2 separate regions of the Homo sapiens genome follow, and region 1 is linked to region 2. A link means that fine-mapping ties the variant in region 2 to the expression of a gene that starts in the linked region. Tissue or cell type: whole blood. Region 2 holds a variant in brackets; the other region holds the start of a gene. All regions are shown on one strand. Distances are from middle to middle.

What was found. PIP is the estimated chance that this variant, and not a neighbour inherited with it, causes the effect.
Region 1: ALPK1 starts here. The variant in region 2 is fine-mapped to the expression of ALPK1 in whole blood (TOPMed, PIP above 0.99).

The regions. Positions count from the first base shown.
Region 1 is chr4:112,292,748-112,300,853 of GRCh38, reverse strand. It overlaps ALPK1 (alpha kinase 1), which reads right to left and starts at 3,485. Exons shown (of 16, transcript NM_025144.4): 1 at 3,385-3,485. RefSeq lists an enhancer at 3,427-3,721.
Region 2 is chr4:112,424,442-112,432,547 of GRCh38, reverse strand. ALPK1 (alpha kinase 1) reads right to left here. Exons shown (of 16, transcript NM_025144.4): 7 at 6,797-6,883; 8 at 6,005-6,081; 9 at 4,883-4,978; 10 at 3,295-3,399; 11 at 1-2,100. Among named protein-coding and RNA genes, the nearest start is that of NEUROG2-AS1, 87 kb to the left of the region's middle. The variant G/A (reference allele first, on the strand shown) is at 3,512.

The sequences.
Region 1 (8,106 bases), 130 kb after region 2:
ATGACAAAATTGAATATAAGTACAATATGTGCAGATATAAATTACTAAATCCAAAATATGGAAATCCATAAGAACAAGAAATGAGTTAAGAGGTTATTTGCACACAGGTCAGGCCAAATTTCCATTCCCCCTTCCCTGCCTTTTTTTTTTTTATCTTTAAGCCAAAAGAATTATTAGACTGAAGTAAAAGCTACAGTTGACAGAGAAGCAATCAACACAAGAAAAATGAACCAATAGTAAGTGTTTCAACTGGTATTTCCTTCTCTGTTCACTGACTCCGCTGCACCTGTTTGTTCCTAGCACTGAGACTCCGTCCTCTCTTCTTTCACATAGCTGGTTATTTGTATGCCAAATAAAAAGAAGGAAAAACTTTTATCTTCCAAAGCTGCATAGTTTTATTTACTATATATTATTAGCAATATAGTTCTATTTAATAAACTATATTTGTTTTCTCAAAAAAGATATAAGTATATTATATAATAATTTAAAAATTTTTTGTAAGAATATCATGTTATGTAGAAAGAAATAGAAGGAAGGGAAAGAATCTATCACTGTAAGACAACAATCACTTTTAGAATATTTCTGAATTTATATCTATACCATTTTATGTAAATACTTGCATGCATACAAGTTATTCAATCCTGAGTCTGTTTTTCACTTAGTATTTTCTGTGCTGGTACTATTTTTTATCCTATCATGTTTTATGGGTACAGTATCTTTTGCTTAACCTCCCCCTTTTATGAGAATGCTTGCAATTATTTGTTATTACGACTTTATGATGAACATGTTTGCGAATTTTTCCCTTGTCTAGAATTATTTCCCCCTTAGGATGGATTCCCAGAAATGAAATTATTGCATATAGCCATTGGCACATACTATGACCCATTAGTAGCCCTTGATCTAGATAATGTTTAAAGTCCCCCCTGGCCCCTGAGTTCAGAAGTTCAGTGAAACAAGCAGAATGAACCTGTAGTATTCAAGCTGAGACATTTCACCCTTTCTATCACTCTTATTTGAAAAAGTATTGGCTATCTTCTGCATCCCTTCAATTATATGATAATTTACGAGGAAATATAATAGTTTATTAGGCTACAGGTGTGATAAACGTTTGATAAAATATTTCTCTGTCAAATACTTTGTACATCTATACTTAGGAAATTGAACAGATTGCATTGTCAACTGAGCTCTGTAACCAAGGCCCAGTAAAATTCAAAGATACTGCACTGGCTAAGAAAATATCCACTTCTCAAATGCATTAGTGTAGCATGTCTGAAACTTTAGCCATTTGCATGCCATCTTCATAATTTTTGCCAAATCTGCAGATTACCTGTAATATTATTTATTTAATCATTTCCTTAAAATCAATAGTAAATTAGCTCAACTTCTTACTTAACACTTTCCTGAACAACAGTATTCATGAAATTCTAGGTTTTATAAGCAAATTATGTTAATTTATATTAAGCTAGCAAATAACTCAAAATTTTGAAGTTTAGACATGTACTGCCTAAAATCAGTAGCATGTATACCATACTTAGGAAAAGTTGTATTTGTATGTATCTGATATTTAAGTTATAATCATCTCTTCTTTTCTTCAGACATAGAAGAATGATAGCACCAGATAATATTCTTTCTTTTAAGTTTGTCTATCCCACAGTTCTCTATAAATAAAGCATATTACAACATTCTGCAAAAACAGTTGTCACCATCAATAACAAGAAACAAAGACTCCCCCATATAGAGAGGCAACAAATACAATACAAAATACAAAAAAAACAAAAATATGGAATATATTTTCACCAAAAGTTTAAATGCTCATTCCTTTAAGAGTTCTTCAATCCATAGATATTCAAAATTTCAAGAAAGAAAATCATTTACAATGAACAGCTTATGCCAAAAAGCCATCATTCTCTGCAATAGATTAGAGAATAATAAAAGCAATTCATGCCTTGTGTTCATGGGAAAGGGATCAGTAAAATTGTTTGGAATAGAAGGAGCCATGGAATTTCAGAAATATCTTGAAATGCACAAACTTATTCTTAAGGAAAACTTCAGGCTCTAAATCCAAACCTAGATCACATGGCACTTGCTGGGAGGTATTGTTACAGCTTAACACATCAGCAAAGCTCATCACAGTATTATTATATATGATAATGCCTAATATCCATCATAATTTACACATGCCTTTTCTTTACAGTTTAAAATAGATTTTGAAAAGTTTAAAGTAATTATTGGCTTCCTACTCATGCAGATAGAGATGCTATACAATTTTGGTGTCTTCTTGGCGGAAGAAATTTGAGAGATTCATCTCAGATTTAAAAGATCTTTGATATGGGGAATAAGTTATTTCTAAAATAAGTTTAAGTATTTTGTTTCTCTTGAGGCTTGAGGTTGATGGGGTGGGAAGGAGGTGGGAAGAGAGAAGTAAATTGTTTCGGTCAGCAGACAAGGACTGGACTTGACATTGGTTCTAGAGACTAGAGTGTATCCCAAGTGCATAAATTATACCCCAAATTAAATGGATATTGTTTCTTATAAGAGAATTAGTGGCACAAAGTAAAAAGAAAGTAAAAGGGAGAGAGAGAGAGACAGAGAGAGAGAGAAATATATATCGCAAGCAGAGATGCTATTATATTGTGGCATAAAGTCCTCTCCTTCCTGATCCTGCCTGTTTGTACCCTCACCCATCCTCAAATCCCAAACCATCTTAAAGGTTTTAATTTGTGGCTTTTCAAAGTACTCTAAAGTACTAATTTCAAACACTAGAATTTTTTAATTAAAGGATTTTTCTAAATAGACATGCAAAGGAATTTAATTTTTCTGGATGCTTTGTCTCTAAACAATGCTTCCACGCACTCAGAATTCCCGTCAATTCACCCATATGAGACGAGTAAGTCTCGTGCCTTATCTACCTGTTTCCTAGCAAAATTACTGATGCTGTCATAAAAGTGGTAGTTTCTATTATTACCTATGTATTCCAGGCAAAAGTCATAGAGTTTTTTTTTAAACAAATAATCCTAACAATCCTTTAATTAAACATCTCAGTTAAGTGACAAGACCAGAAGCTCAGTGACTTAAGAAACTTGTTATTAAAACCTTATGAAAAACTGGTTTGCCTTCTCCCCTTCATAATGACTACAGTTTACCATTGTAGGTAACTTTTCCCTTCTCTCCCTCCCCTTCCCCACTCCACCCCCTTCACCCCACCAACTCATCCTCCCCTTTCTGGAAAGTTTCTATTATAGAAGTGCAAAGGTTCTTAGAGCTCTAAAGTTATTTAAATATAAACAAGATCAGCAGATGGAAACTGAGTCAACACTTAAGACAAATACTTCCTCATATATTATGCCATCTACTGCGTTTTGTCATTTAAAGGATGATACTCACTTTTATCTTAAAGAGGAAAAGTACTTTAAGACCAGCAAATCTAACTCTGAGCAGAGTTAATTCTGGTACAGCCTCTCTGAAACACACTGTTTCTCATAAACGGCTTCAGTTTCAGGAAGTAGGAATTAAAAAAAAAAAAACAACCAATCCTGTGACTGTCTCAGAATATGGTTGTGTAATTCAATTCCGGGACTTTCAGCAATCTTGCACCATAAGACACACCCCTTTAGGAATTGCTTCGGTGAAAGGTATTCTGGGAGCTGTATTACTACAGAAAAGTTCCTTCTCCTAATGAAAGTGCAAGAAAAACTTATTATTTAGACTAAGAATGGAGAGTCCTCTTAGAGCCAAGAAGAGAGAATGTCAGTAAGAAACAATGAATATGACATTGTTGAAATCTGTTAGCAAAAGACAGATGCACATTAAGGCTTCATTCTGTGCTCTGTCTTAGAAGTGAGCTTGTTATCACAGAGACACATATATTGCTGAACTGGAAAATAAAGTTAGGACTTTTTGGATAGAATATCTGATTAGGCTGACTAGTTTGACAGTGAAAAGTGTCTTATTGAGTTACACAGTGGACATTGTCCTTCCATGGAACAACTGAAATCTGCAACTCGAAATTTTGACAAAAAAATCAAAAGTACCTAAGATTTCTAAATGTCAAAATATATTTTATTGGAAAAGTTATTGACATAAACAATATTTTAATTTTCTCAATCCTTTTTGAGCCTGCTGGGTTAAAGAAGTTTCCTCTAGAGTGAAGGAATAATAGGTTTTATTAATAGTCATTTGATACATTTTGGTAAAGCCTTTGGTATACTTCCTAGAAACTGAGAGAGTGAAGGACTCCAAAAGCTGGGTCATAAATGCTTTGGCAAGTCAATTGTTTACAACAAAATAGGAGGAAATAGTTGAATAGTCAGTTGCTCGATCACTTAAAACACATTTTTTTTGTGTGATAGATCGCTATGTAATGTTTAATATATGACCTTAGAAGTTTAAATAACCAAATGGCATTGCTATAACAAAATTCTATCTCTATTTATTTATGTAAACACAGTTCCTCTCCTCTTCCATGTGTATATTTTTGTGGAATGTTGTTTTATTCCAACTATAAGTAACATTCAGCTGTGAATTAATTTTTTAAAACTCCAGAAATCTTATGGAGAAGTGACACTTGAATAAATTTTATCACTTAATATTCATCAAAACGTACCATTTTATTTTTGTCTTCTTCATCAATTATGAATCAATACTTGTACAATTCAATCTTTAAGAAAGTTTAATACTTAGAGTCTATGGTCACAGAAAACAGAAATGTTTAATTTCTTTTTTCTTTTCTATTTTTTTTTTTTTTTTTGAGATGGAGTTTCGCTCTTGTTGCCCAGGCTGGGGTGCAGTGGCACAATCTCGGCTCGCTGCAGCCTCTGCCTCCTGGGTTCAAACGATTCTCCTGCCTCAGCCTTCCGAGTAGCTGGGATTACAGGTGCCTGCCAGCACGCCCAGCTAATTTTTTGTATTTTTAGTAGAGGTGGGGCTTCACCATGTTGGCCAGGCTGGTCTCGAACTCCTGACCTCAGGTCTGTCTGCCTCGGCCTCCCAAAGCACTGGGATTACAGGTGTGAGCCACCACACCCAGCCAGAAAGGTTTAATTTCAATATATACTTTTTTTGAGAGACATGTTGCCCAGGCTGGAGTGCAGTGGCATGATCTCTGTTCACTGCAACCTCTGCCTCCTGGGTTCAAGCGATTCTCCTGCCTCAGCTTCCCAAGTAACTGGGACTACAGGCACCCGCCACCACGCCCAGCTAATTTTTGTATTTTAGTAGAGACAGGGTTTCACCATATCGGCCAGGCTGGTCTCGAACTCCTGACCTCTGGTGATCTGCCTGCCTTCGCTTCCCAAAGTGCTGGGATTACAGGCTTGAGCCACTGCACCCGGCCTACATATTTTTACTGTAAAGAAATATGACAAAAACTTTCAAGTATATAAACTGTTTTATACTAGGATAAACTTCTATGGATGAAGTGAAATGAAACAGAAGGTTACGGAAATACAGGAATGATATAAAATTTCCAATTGTTAAAAAAGATTTGTACATGTGTCTTTATTTTTAAATTTTTTAAATTTTAAACTTTTTTGAGATAGGGCTGTCACCTGGGCTGGAATGCAGTGGCACAATCACAGCTCACTGCAGCCTTGACCTCCTGGTCTCAAGTGATCCTCCTGCTTCAGCCTCCCAGGTAGCTGGGACCACAGGTGTACACCATCACACCTGGCTAATTTTTGTTTTTGTTTTTTTGTTTGTTTGTTTTTTGTAAAGACAGTGTTTCTCCATGTTGTCCAGACTGGTCTCGAACTCCTGGGCTCAAGTGATCTACCCATCTCAGCCTCCCAAAGTGTTGGGACTATGGGAGTGAGCCACTGCGCCCAGCCTGTACATGCGTTTTTAAATGGATGATGGGGAACATCAAATCACTAGGATATAAAATTTGTGTTGGATACATTTAAAAGAGTAATGTATGAGTTATGTTTATTCAACGTCAGATTTAGACCCTTTGTATCTAAAGTTATAATGAAAGATGAATATCGACTTTATGTGAAGGAATTATTGTCTTTGCAAAATTCTATTTGGGGGTAGGGGAGCAAAAATGTTGGAAATACAGTGTTTAGGATGAAGGGCTGTACATTTCAGAGCCTAAAAAAGGGCACTGTACACCTGAGTATGGAGAGAAAGGCAATGGCACTGATAGAAGAGGAGGGATCTCATAGGAGATATTATCTTTCTTACAGTTTGGACAACAGTCAGATTGTCTTCAACAGGGATTCCTGGTAAGATCCTTAGAGTCATGTAAAACACAAAGACAAAATGGCTCATTTATAATCCAGTGGTGAGTTTTAGTAAGATTTCAAAGATGGAAGTTTCATTACACAAATTTCAACTATTTTAAGTGATTGAGATGTACACCTATATAAGGAATACATTATGACACGCAGGAAAACTGGCTGCAGCATCATACTCATTTTGATTTTCTAGGATTTATCATCTTGAATATAAAATATAAAATGCTGATACAAGCTGACATCATTCGTTCATCTCAATAACATGTTTAGGGAATCTTTTGTGTCAAGTGCTACATTGGTGCTACAGATTCAGACTGTGCACACAAGCAATGCACTTAAGGCAATCACAGTGACTGATGGATTAGTAGTGATGTGGCCAGAAATTAGTTGGAAAAAATTGGCAAGAGTTGGCTCATAATAGGAGGTCTTTGTGTTTCATTTTAAGGAGTTTGGATATTTATATTGACAACATAGAAAATTTGGGCCAGGCGTGGTGGCTCACGCCTGTAATCCCAGCACTCTGAGAGGCCGAGGCGGGCGGATCACGAGGTCAGGAGTTCAAGACCAGCCTGGCCAAGATGGTGAAACCTTGTCTCTACTAAAAATACAAAAATTAGCTGGGCGTGGTGGCGGATGCCTGTAGTCACAGCTACTTGGGAGGCTGAGGCAGAGAATTTCTTGAACCCGGGAGGTGGAGGTTGCAGTGAGGCAAGATTGCGCCACTGCACTCCAGCCTGGGCAACAGAGCAAGACTCCATCTCAAGAAAAAAAAAAACAACAGAAAACAGAAAATTTCAAAGAATGTAAAATCATAAAACTGTTTTAGAAAGAATACTTACTGTTGTGGGAAGGTTGGAGTATGGAGCAAGGTTCATGCAAGGGAGGGATCCTGGTGGTGGGTGGATTAGGAGGCAAGACTGGAATTAGGAAAATGAGTTAGAAGAGTACTGCAGTATTGTAGAGAGAAGTGATGACTAGCCTTAATTAATGGCAGTAGCAATGGAATAAAAAGGAAGGGAAAGAAATATTTAGGAAATAGAATCACAGGCCTGGGTGAGAGACACAGAAATATGGGTAAATGACTTAGAGGCAGTCAAAAAACTATAATTGTAGTTAGATATTACCAAAGGGGAATGTACAGGATAGAAAGAAGGCCACAGAGGTGGAAGTTGGTAATACTGGCATTCACGCAGAAAAAGAGAGATCCATAGAGGAGATGGGTAAAGAACGCTTAGAACAGTAGTAAAAAAACCAAAACAAAGTATATCCTAAAAACAGGACTGGCAAGAGACTTTGCAGGGCCTCTTGTTCAAAAATATTAAGCATTTCAGGTTGATGATAGCCGATATAAGCATGGGACTCTGAGTGCAGGGCCCTATGGATTGCACAGGTCACACACTCAGGAAAGCCTGCTTAAAAGCCAAGTAGATGGAAGTGACAGTGTCAATGAAGTGAAATTGGTCAACAAGAACAAATGATGCAGAGAAGTGAAGTAGGACGAGAACAGAAAAGTGTCCTTTGGCTTGGCAAGTAGGTCAAGGATGGATATAACAAGAACAAATCAGTAAAGCAGTGGCAGAAAGCAGATGATGGACTATTTTAAAAATCCTAGGCCGGGCGCGGTGACTCATGCCTGTAATCCCAGCACTTTGGGAGGCCGAGGCGAGTGGATCACCTGAGGTCAGGAGTTCGAGAACAGCCTGACCAACATGGTGAAACCCCATCTCTACTAAAAATACAAAATTAGCCAGGGGTGGTGGTGGGCACCTGTAGTCCCAGCTACTCAGGAGACTGAGGCAGGAGAATCGCTTGAACCCAGGAGATGGAGATTGCAGTGAGCCGAGATCACACCACTGCACTCCAGCCTGGGCAA
Region 2 (8,106 bases):
CCCCGTATTCTCTAGTCTCTGAAACAGCCAATCATGCCTCACTCCTGCCAACAGCTTTTCAAAGTCATCAGGTTGCAAGGTGCGAGCCTCAAGGATCTCTTTCCTCATCTTTCCCGGCAATGAAACCCAAGAACTCCCACTGGAATTCAGATAGGACCAAGGGCTGTCCCCCTCAGAAGAACCACTGGAAAATGCAGGTGATTTCAGCCACCACACTGAGGATGAGCTGGAGTTCTGGCTGCAGTTTAGCATGTTTCCAGGCTGATTTCCTTCCTCTGTGGTAGTGCAGTCCTCGCTGAGGACAGGGAAGAGGATGTTACCGCTTACAGAGGAATTGGGGGTCTCCGCCCTCTGACCAGGCGGCTGTCTCAGAATGCACAGTCTATGAGAGCCGTGCCCATTTGTGCAGGGAACATCCATGCTGTCGAGCAGTTGCCCCTCCTCATCCACTGTGGAGGCATCAGGGTCGATGCCCTGCTCTGCGACTGGGCCACCACTTTTTCTGGAGTCAGGATTTTGAACAGGCCAATTAGGGGTGAAGGAGCTACATGGCAGCATGGAAATGTTTCCCAGAGAATTGTGCAGGACCCTGTGAAAGTCTAAGGGTGCATCTTCAGTGCTTTCTGCTGTTTCTCCTTCTGGGTCAACCCAGGAGGGACTAGCTTTAAATGTAGGGCCTGCGCCTCTTTCACTAATTTCTTCTCCCTGCTCTTTCCCCTGCCTGTCTTTGACATCGCAGTTGGTTTCTGGAAACTCAACAATTATTTCAAAGGCTTCTTCTTTTTGGACTGAAGGATGTGTGCCCATATTCTTGGGCCTACCAGAATCAGAAGACCAAGAAGCAGAACGATATGAGGGTCTGGAGTGAGCAGAAGTATTTCTGGGTCCCATATTTCTGACTTCCTGGATACCTTCTGGAGCTCCTTCTAGAAGCCCTGCACCAGGGGCCAAGAAAATGCCTGGGGTATTATGAGGCGAGAAGGGTGTCAAGGGCATCTGTTGCTGTGGCTGATTTTGAGAAGGCTCCAAATTGTCATTGTTGGGTTCCTGAAGAGAGAGATCATGAAGCTGTGAATGCAATGAATGCATAGCTCTGCCTTCCCTGTCATTCTCTAGCTCCTCAGACAAGGCAGTGGAACACTGAGTGTCCACCAGATGTTCTTTGCCAGGCTCTTTTCTGGCTGACCTGTCGTCAACGTGATAATTCACTTCCTCCCAGCTTGCAGAGGAACTAAACCCTGATAAGTTGCTCCAAGCACTGGAAGTCTGGCTGCCACTCAGAGACTTGTTGAAAACAGCTCCCTCACCATTGCTGTAGTCCGATGGCTCAGTCTCAGTCTCCACATCTTGATCCAAGGAGACTCGAAATGCATCAGAATGGGTCCAGTTTCTCCTTCCTCCCCTTCTGAGTTCCCTCTGAACATTCTTACCCATTAGGGAGGAAGATATTCCTGTGTCTCTTTGACAATGTGGCTTTTCTTGAGTAGTACTCACAGTATCTATGTTTTTTATTTCTGTTTTTAGAGCAGTGATGCAGACTCCTGTTTTTGCATCTTTCTGTTCATTTTTGTTGTTTCCACAATCACTTTCAAATACTTCACACACCGAAGTATGGTGCTGTGAATAGGTGTCAAGGATTTTTTGGAAATCCCCTTGCCCATGCAAGATAAGTTTATCCAACCTGCACTCGAAACTCTCGGGAACATAAGATCTGTCATCTACATTTGAGAAGCTTTGAACTTGTAAATGTTCCTTCACCTGGGCAATCACAGACATAACTTCTTGAGACAGAGCTTCTCTGTCCTGACTTCTGGAGGAAGTGCTGAAATTGTACAGCTTCCCCATTGCTTCCTTACAGAGCTGACTTGCTGCATGGACCGTCCCTGTCTCCCCATGGAGCCTTCTGTGCACTGTGGTGAGACCGAAAGCAGCTTTGACAAAGCTGTGAAGCTCCTGTTTTCCAGTAACAGGCTCATCATCTCTCTTGGTGAGGAGGCCAATCTCAAAGGCCTCTTTGGCTTCACACAGATGTAAGTTTTTCAATTCTGGAGGACAGTCATTTGAACTACTGTAGGACAATAAACACGTGCCACGGATATTCTGGGAAAAATACCAAATACCAAATCAGATATTGAATTGAAAACTGCAAGTGAATCAGGACAAACTTTTCATTTCTGGAGGACAGTCATTTGAAATATTATAGAAAAATGAACACATGCCACATACATTCTAAGGAAAATATACAGGCAAACATTGAGTTAAGGACCCGAGGCCTTTTTGGTGAATCAGAAGAAGGGATGGGGATATAAGTGACTGGCTGGCATGAAGGGGTAAGAAATCAGCTTCAATTACCATCCTATTGTATCTTTGATACATTTTGATTAAAGACGATAGGCTTGTGTTTGTTGCTGTTGTTAGTTTTAACAGAGTCTATCCATGGAAATGGATATAAGTTTCTCTATGCAAATAAGGATGCCATATATGAATACATCATTCATTTAATGTCGAAACAATAGGGCATTGGTTTCCGAATGCATCTGTGCATTTGAATCACCTGGACAATATTCCAAAATTAAAGATTTTTGGATACCAACCTCAGAGATTTGCATTTAGTGGATCTAGGGTGGAGCTCAGAAATGTGTAGTATTTTTTTCTTTCTTTTTTTTTTCTTTTTCTTTTTCTCTTTTCTTTTCTTTTTTTTTTTTTTTGAGGTAGGGTCTTGCTCTGTTACCCAGGGTGGAGTGCAGTGGTGCAATCTCAGCTCACTGCAAACTCAACCTTCCAGGCTCAGGTGATCCTCCCACCTCAGCCTCCCCAGTACCTGGGACTATAGGCACGTACCACCACACCTGGCCAATTTTTATTTTTTAATTTTTTGTAGAGACAAAGTCTCACCATGTTGCTCAGGCTAGTCTTGAAATTTTGGGCTCAAGCCATCCTCCTACCTTGGCCTCCCAAAGTGATGGGATTACAGGCGTGAGCCACCATGCCTGGCAGGAATATGTATTTTGAGAAGGTTCCTTGGGTGATTTTGATGTGCACTCAGGCTTGGGAACCATTGCTTCACAACAGACAACAATCTACCCTTGGGCTGAATTAATTTAGCTCCTAGTAGGCTGTCAAAACTCCGACCAATAAAATTTTTCCATATGTGGTGTGGAGTCTTATCACAATTGCCACTGATGAGACACAAAGCCTGTTTGAAGGTTAAACCTTTCCCTTCTCACTGGTTACATCAGAAAGCACCCTGGGAGAGGTCCTGTGGGGGTTTGAGGAGCGGCTGCATTCGTTTACCACAGCTGTGAGCACGAAGAGCGGCGTATAGGCACTGAAGGCAGCTGCCAGCTTGCAGGCTTCTGCAGCGGACAGCAAATGGTGGTCAAACTCCTTCAGCAGGCTCTGTGAGAAAACAGGAGGCTAAGTGGAATGGTGATAATTAATTATCGATGAGCAAAAAACAGGCTATGAAATGGTTTTGCTTTTCTTTCATGATTTCAAGGGACTCCTCACC[G/A]CAACCCGTTCAGAACAGTGTAAAGAAAGAGTAAGTGGGTCTAAAGACCACAAGGTGTTGACTTTCCTTTTTCCCAGCAGACACACACCTGTGCAAAATAATTTGGGTGAGCTTCTTTGGAGGACGGTGGCAGTTCTTTGTTCAAAGGAACTGCACATTTTGAAGCCAGATTAATTGATTTCTGCACGCTCTTGGCAAAGAGCCCTTTAATTGATGATTTCACAGCAATTAGAATTCATTTATTAATTCTGTAAATACGTATAGAGTACCACCACATTCCAGGGCCTGTTCTAGACACAGGGGAAACAGCAGACAGTGAGCCCTCAAGGAGCTTACTTTCTGTTGTGGGGGAGGGACCAGTCAATATACAAAACAAGTAAAGTGCATAGTATTTGAGATTATGACAAGTGTTCTGGAGAGACAATAAATGGAGAAGGGGTTAGGGAGGCCCAGGATGGGAAGGAAGTTTGCAATTTTAAACGGTCATCAGGGATAACTTCAGTGAACAAGGGACATGATCCTCCTGTTTTGGTCAAACAGAAAAAGCAACATCTTAGATTCAGATTACCATCAGCAAGCTGTATGTGTTCTTTTGCTACACTAATTAGTATTGAGCATGGTTACTGTTGTGATTTAATGGTATCTTTAATAATGGGGTCTTGAATAAAAATGGCAATATAGACGATAATAAAAACTCCATTTAAGCACAGTGTGAAGAGCAGCAGAACATCCTTGTCACTTCTCTGGGCTGGTCAGAGATCTGGGCTCAGCTCCCAGTTCTCTCTCTTACTGGTTGTGTAAACTGCAGAGGTTAGTTAGTTTCTCTGCACTGCATTTTATTTTTCTCTAAAATGGAATGATACACTTTGCTCTACCCTCCTCATAGGGTTTTATTGGATATATATATACTTTCTTGAGTTGTAAAGTGATATATAAAAATTAGCAGTCATTATTATCAAGGACGAGAGCCTGGAACAAGGGACTGATGCTCTGATTTGAACAGATGGTGATTACAAAGTTTTAAAATTATTACCCCTTTATCATCAAGATGGCCCAAGTTTGGAAACTGCATTTTGTTATACTTTGAAAGGAAAGAAGTGAGGCTCAAAATCATTTTGTTGATATTCATTCATTCATTCACCAGTAACTTTCTGAGCACTCTCTGAGTGTCTGTTACAGTGCTAGGCGCTGGGATAATAAAGCCAAATAGGACCCCACAAGACTCCTCCCCAGGATTCCTCCCATTTGTCTAGGAGGCGCAGCACTGAGCTCCCTGCCTCCCAATCTCCTGAGAAAGACAGCCACTAACCAACCACCAAGGACACGATTGACAATTTTACAGGTGATGCCACTCAGTGTTATGATAATTACCAAATTAATTTGTGGATTGTTTTTAAACTTTTCATAATCGTTCTTGCTCATGGAAACAAAGATGTCTGCCAGTATACCTAGCGACGTGGAGAGGCCCTGTAAGAAAAACACAAAGAAGTCACAGATCGGGAATTCACAGTGGATTACTGCTCTCATCCATGGCCTAAAGGCTATGATTATTCCTCCATATGAACTATTTGCCTATTAATATTTTATTACTATGACATTGGAGATACTATTTTTAAAAATCAATTTTTAAAAATACTATTTTTAAAAATACTATTTTTAAAAATACATGTTTTATATCAAACATGTATATAATAATTATACATGTTTATGGGATACAATGTGACATTTTGACATATATATACATTGTGTAATAATTAATACCCTGACTTGGAGATATTTTTAAATTGGCTGCCACAGAGCTTGAAGGATCAACACATCCTAGGGCACATGGGCCTAATGTAAACACAGCTACTTCTCAGTTGGGTTTCACTGGATGATCAATACTAACTTGTCCCTACTGCTAGGCCTGAATAACTGGCCCAAGGAAGAGCTCATATCAGTCTGTATTGTAAAAGAATCGTAGACAGTAATTGCTTACACAGCTCAGGGAAATGTAATAACCAGATGTTTCAGATAATGAGACTATTCCCACAGAATTCCAGAAAATGAAAATGTCAAGTAGGAAGGCAGATGACCTTCCTCAATTTCTTGAATAAAGGTGCTATATAAACAGTTGAAGTCTTCGCCCACTCAACTCAAGAAAACTGATTTTACATATAAGCAACTTGGTCATCTCAACTTTGCTATGCAATCAAGTAAAGAGTAAATATATAACAAAACAGATAAATGAATGGACCAGTAGAGATAAATATATAAATGGACAGTTACAAATGATTATAAGAACACCATCTATGCACCAAGAGTCTAGCTGTGAGTGAGGATGAAGCAAGACACATAAGGAAGCTACTAACTGTACCTGGCCCTATGCTTGTGAAAAATAAATAAAAATAGGACAGATGAAATTGATATATGAGAAATGGACTTCTGTCATGAAGAGATAATCATCCAAAGACAAATACAGGAAAGGAGAAAAAGAAGCACTAGACAAACCACCTTTTTATCCGGCTGAGGAAGTGCCAAATATCCTACAATGGAGGCCCATATTAACTCTGCTGCTTCGTACCACATCCCTGAAAAAAAAAAGAGGGGCGGGGAGAGGGACAGGGGAGGAACAGCTAGTATCTGTGCTCTTGTATAGAGAAAACCTTTGAAAACAAATACAGAACCAAGACTCATTAGATTCTGTTAGGAAAACTTAGGCTTAGATTAGATTGACACAGCAATGTTTTTCCAGTTGTAATATAGACAATTTTTCCATTTCACTGGGAAACAGAATTATTATATATTTGTATATATAATATGTGTAATATATGTAGTTATCTCAGTTTTTTACAAAAATAATAATTGCCACCTCCTGTTAAAATTTCTCAAACCATTATTTTGCATTCTAAAGTATATTAGCATTCTATAAACTTGAAAAATTCATGAATACCTTAAGGAATGAACGAAAACAGTGTCACGGTGGGTATAGTATAAGGTGTCACCATATCACATGGAGTCCTGCTGAACTGAGTCAGATGCTAGAAATAACACTGGGAACCCTACAGTTAACATTACAATATACAACCGTGAACCTCTCTAACAAAACTCACTAGAAAAAAACACATTTTATTAATATTTGTGACACTCCTAGGATCTTAAATGCCATTCTCTTTTCGATGAGGAAACTAAGGCAAGTGGAAATTAACAATTTTAGCCTGATAAAAGAAGAAAATTCCACAGTGAAACCATGCAGCCAGGCTTTGTAAATGAGCCTTGAGAAATGCAAGTTTTACATGATTGTACCCAGCTTTTGCAGAATCTGCCCTCTGATCTGTATACAGACCGACTGCACCAGGACCTTGTCACTTTCATTTCTGTACAGCCAGGTACCTAAAAGAAAAGATGAAAATTCCCTTGAATTATCAGAGATATAGCCTTGCAAATTAAAACTATTTTCACAGAAGTCTTCATGAGCACATGTGACATCATTTTGAGAAACAATCTCGTCTCTACATTTAGAATCAGGTCCAAACTTCTTGCTGTAGTCTAAGGCTCTGCAGGAACTGACTCCTGTCTGGTCTCCAGTTCCCCTACTTACTCTCTGTCCACTCTACTTTATTTTGCCTCCTTGTTATAGGGCTGGCCTCTTGCTTCATGGCAGCTGCACTTACCACTAGCCCTGCTTGGGATTCTCTTTCCTCTGGCTTCTTAAGAAACCAGATCCTTCTCCTTCAGGTCTCAGCCTCAGTGCTTTTCCTCAAAGGCCTCCACAGAGTAGTATTTCTACACTGTTACCCCCACTGTCTTATGGTTGCTTTGCGGAGCGTGGGGTGGATCCCATCTGAGGAAAATTTGTTTGGATGTCAAAACTGATGACTGCACACATGTACCAAGAGGGTATGAGAAGATTTATTGCTCACATAATGAGACTTTCTAGGGTAAGTAAGGCTAGCACCTAAGCTGCTCCTTTGATTCAGGCAGGGAGTGGTGAGCGGCTTTGCTTTTCACTGTGATTGGGGTGTGGGGCCGGGTAAAGGTTCCTGTAAGCTGGGTTTGGGTGTGTGGATGAAAGGGCTTTTTGTTGTTTGTTTGTTTGTTTTAATCGGACTGTCCAGTGTGAGGCAAAAGTAAAAAAGGCTGTGGCCTGAAAACTGTCAGTGGTCGGTCAAACATCAAAAATAGAGGCAGACTCTTTACTACCCCCTCACCATTCTCTGTCACATCAGATAATATTTATTTTCTTCCTAGCTTTGAATCCTTGTGTGCGTGCGTGTGTGTGTGCACACACACATGATGACAAGAGTGTATACTGTAGTTTAGTGATGGTGGCCACAAGTGAGGGGTGTGTGGTTAATATTTGGATTCCAAACTGTCTCCCCACTAGAAATGTCCACAAGTTTCAGGCAGTTTGAGACCTCACATCCAAGCATGCTGAGTTTAAAAGTCCAATGGAAACTGTGCTCAACTTATTGGTAAACTTGCTAACTTAAATGCCCAGAAATTCAGACAAGATATCTGAAGCCTTAAGTTATTTGTTACCTAACTATTAGGTCTTGCCTCCTTTCATGGATAATTAAATATTGAAAGAAAATCCATTTTGAAACAAGTTTTTA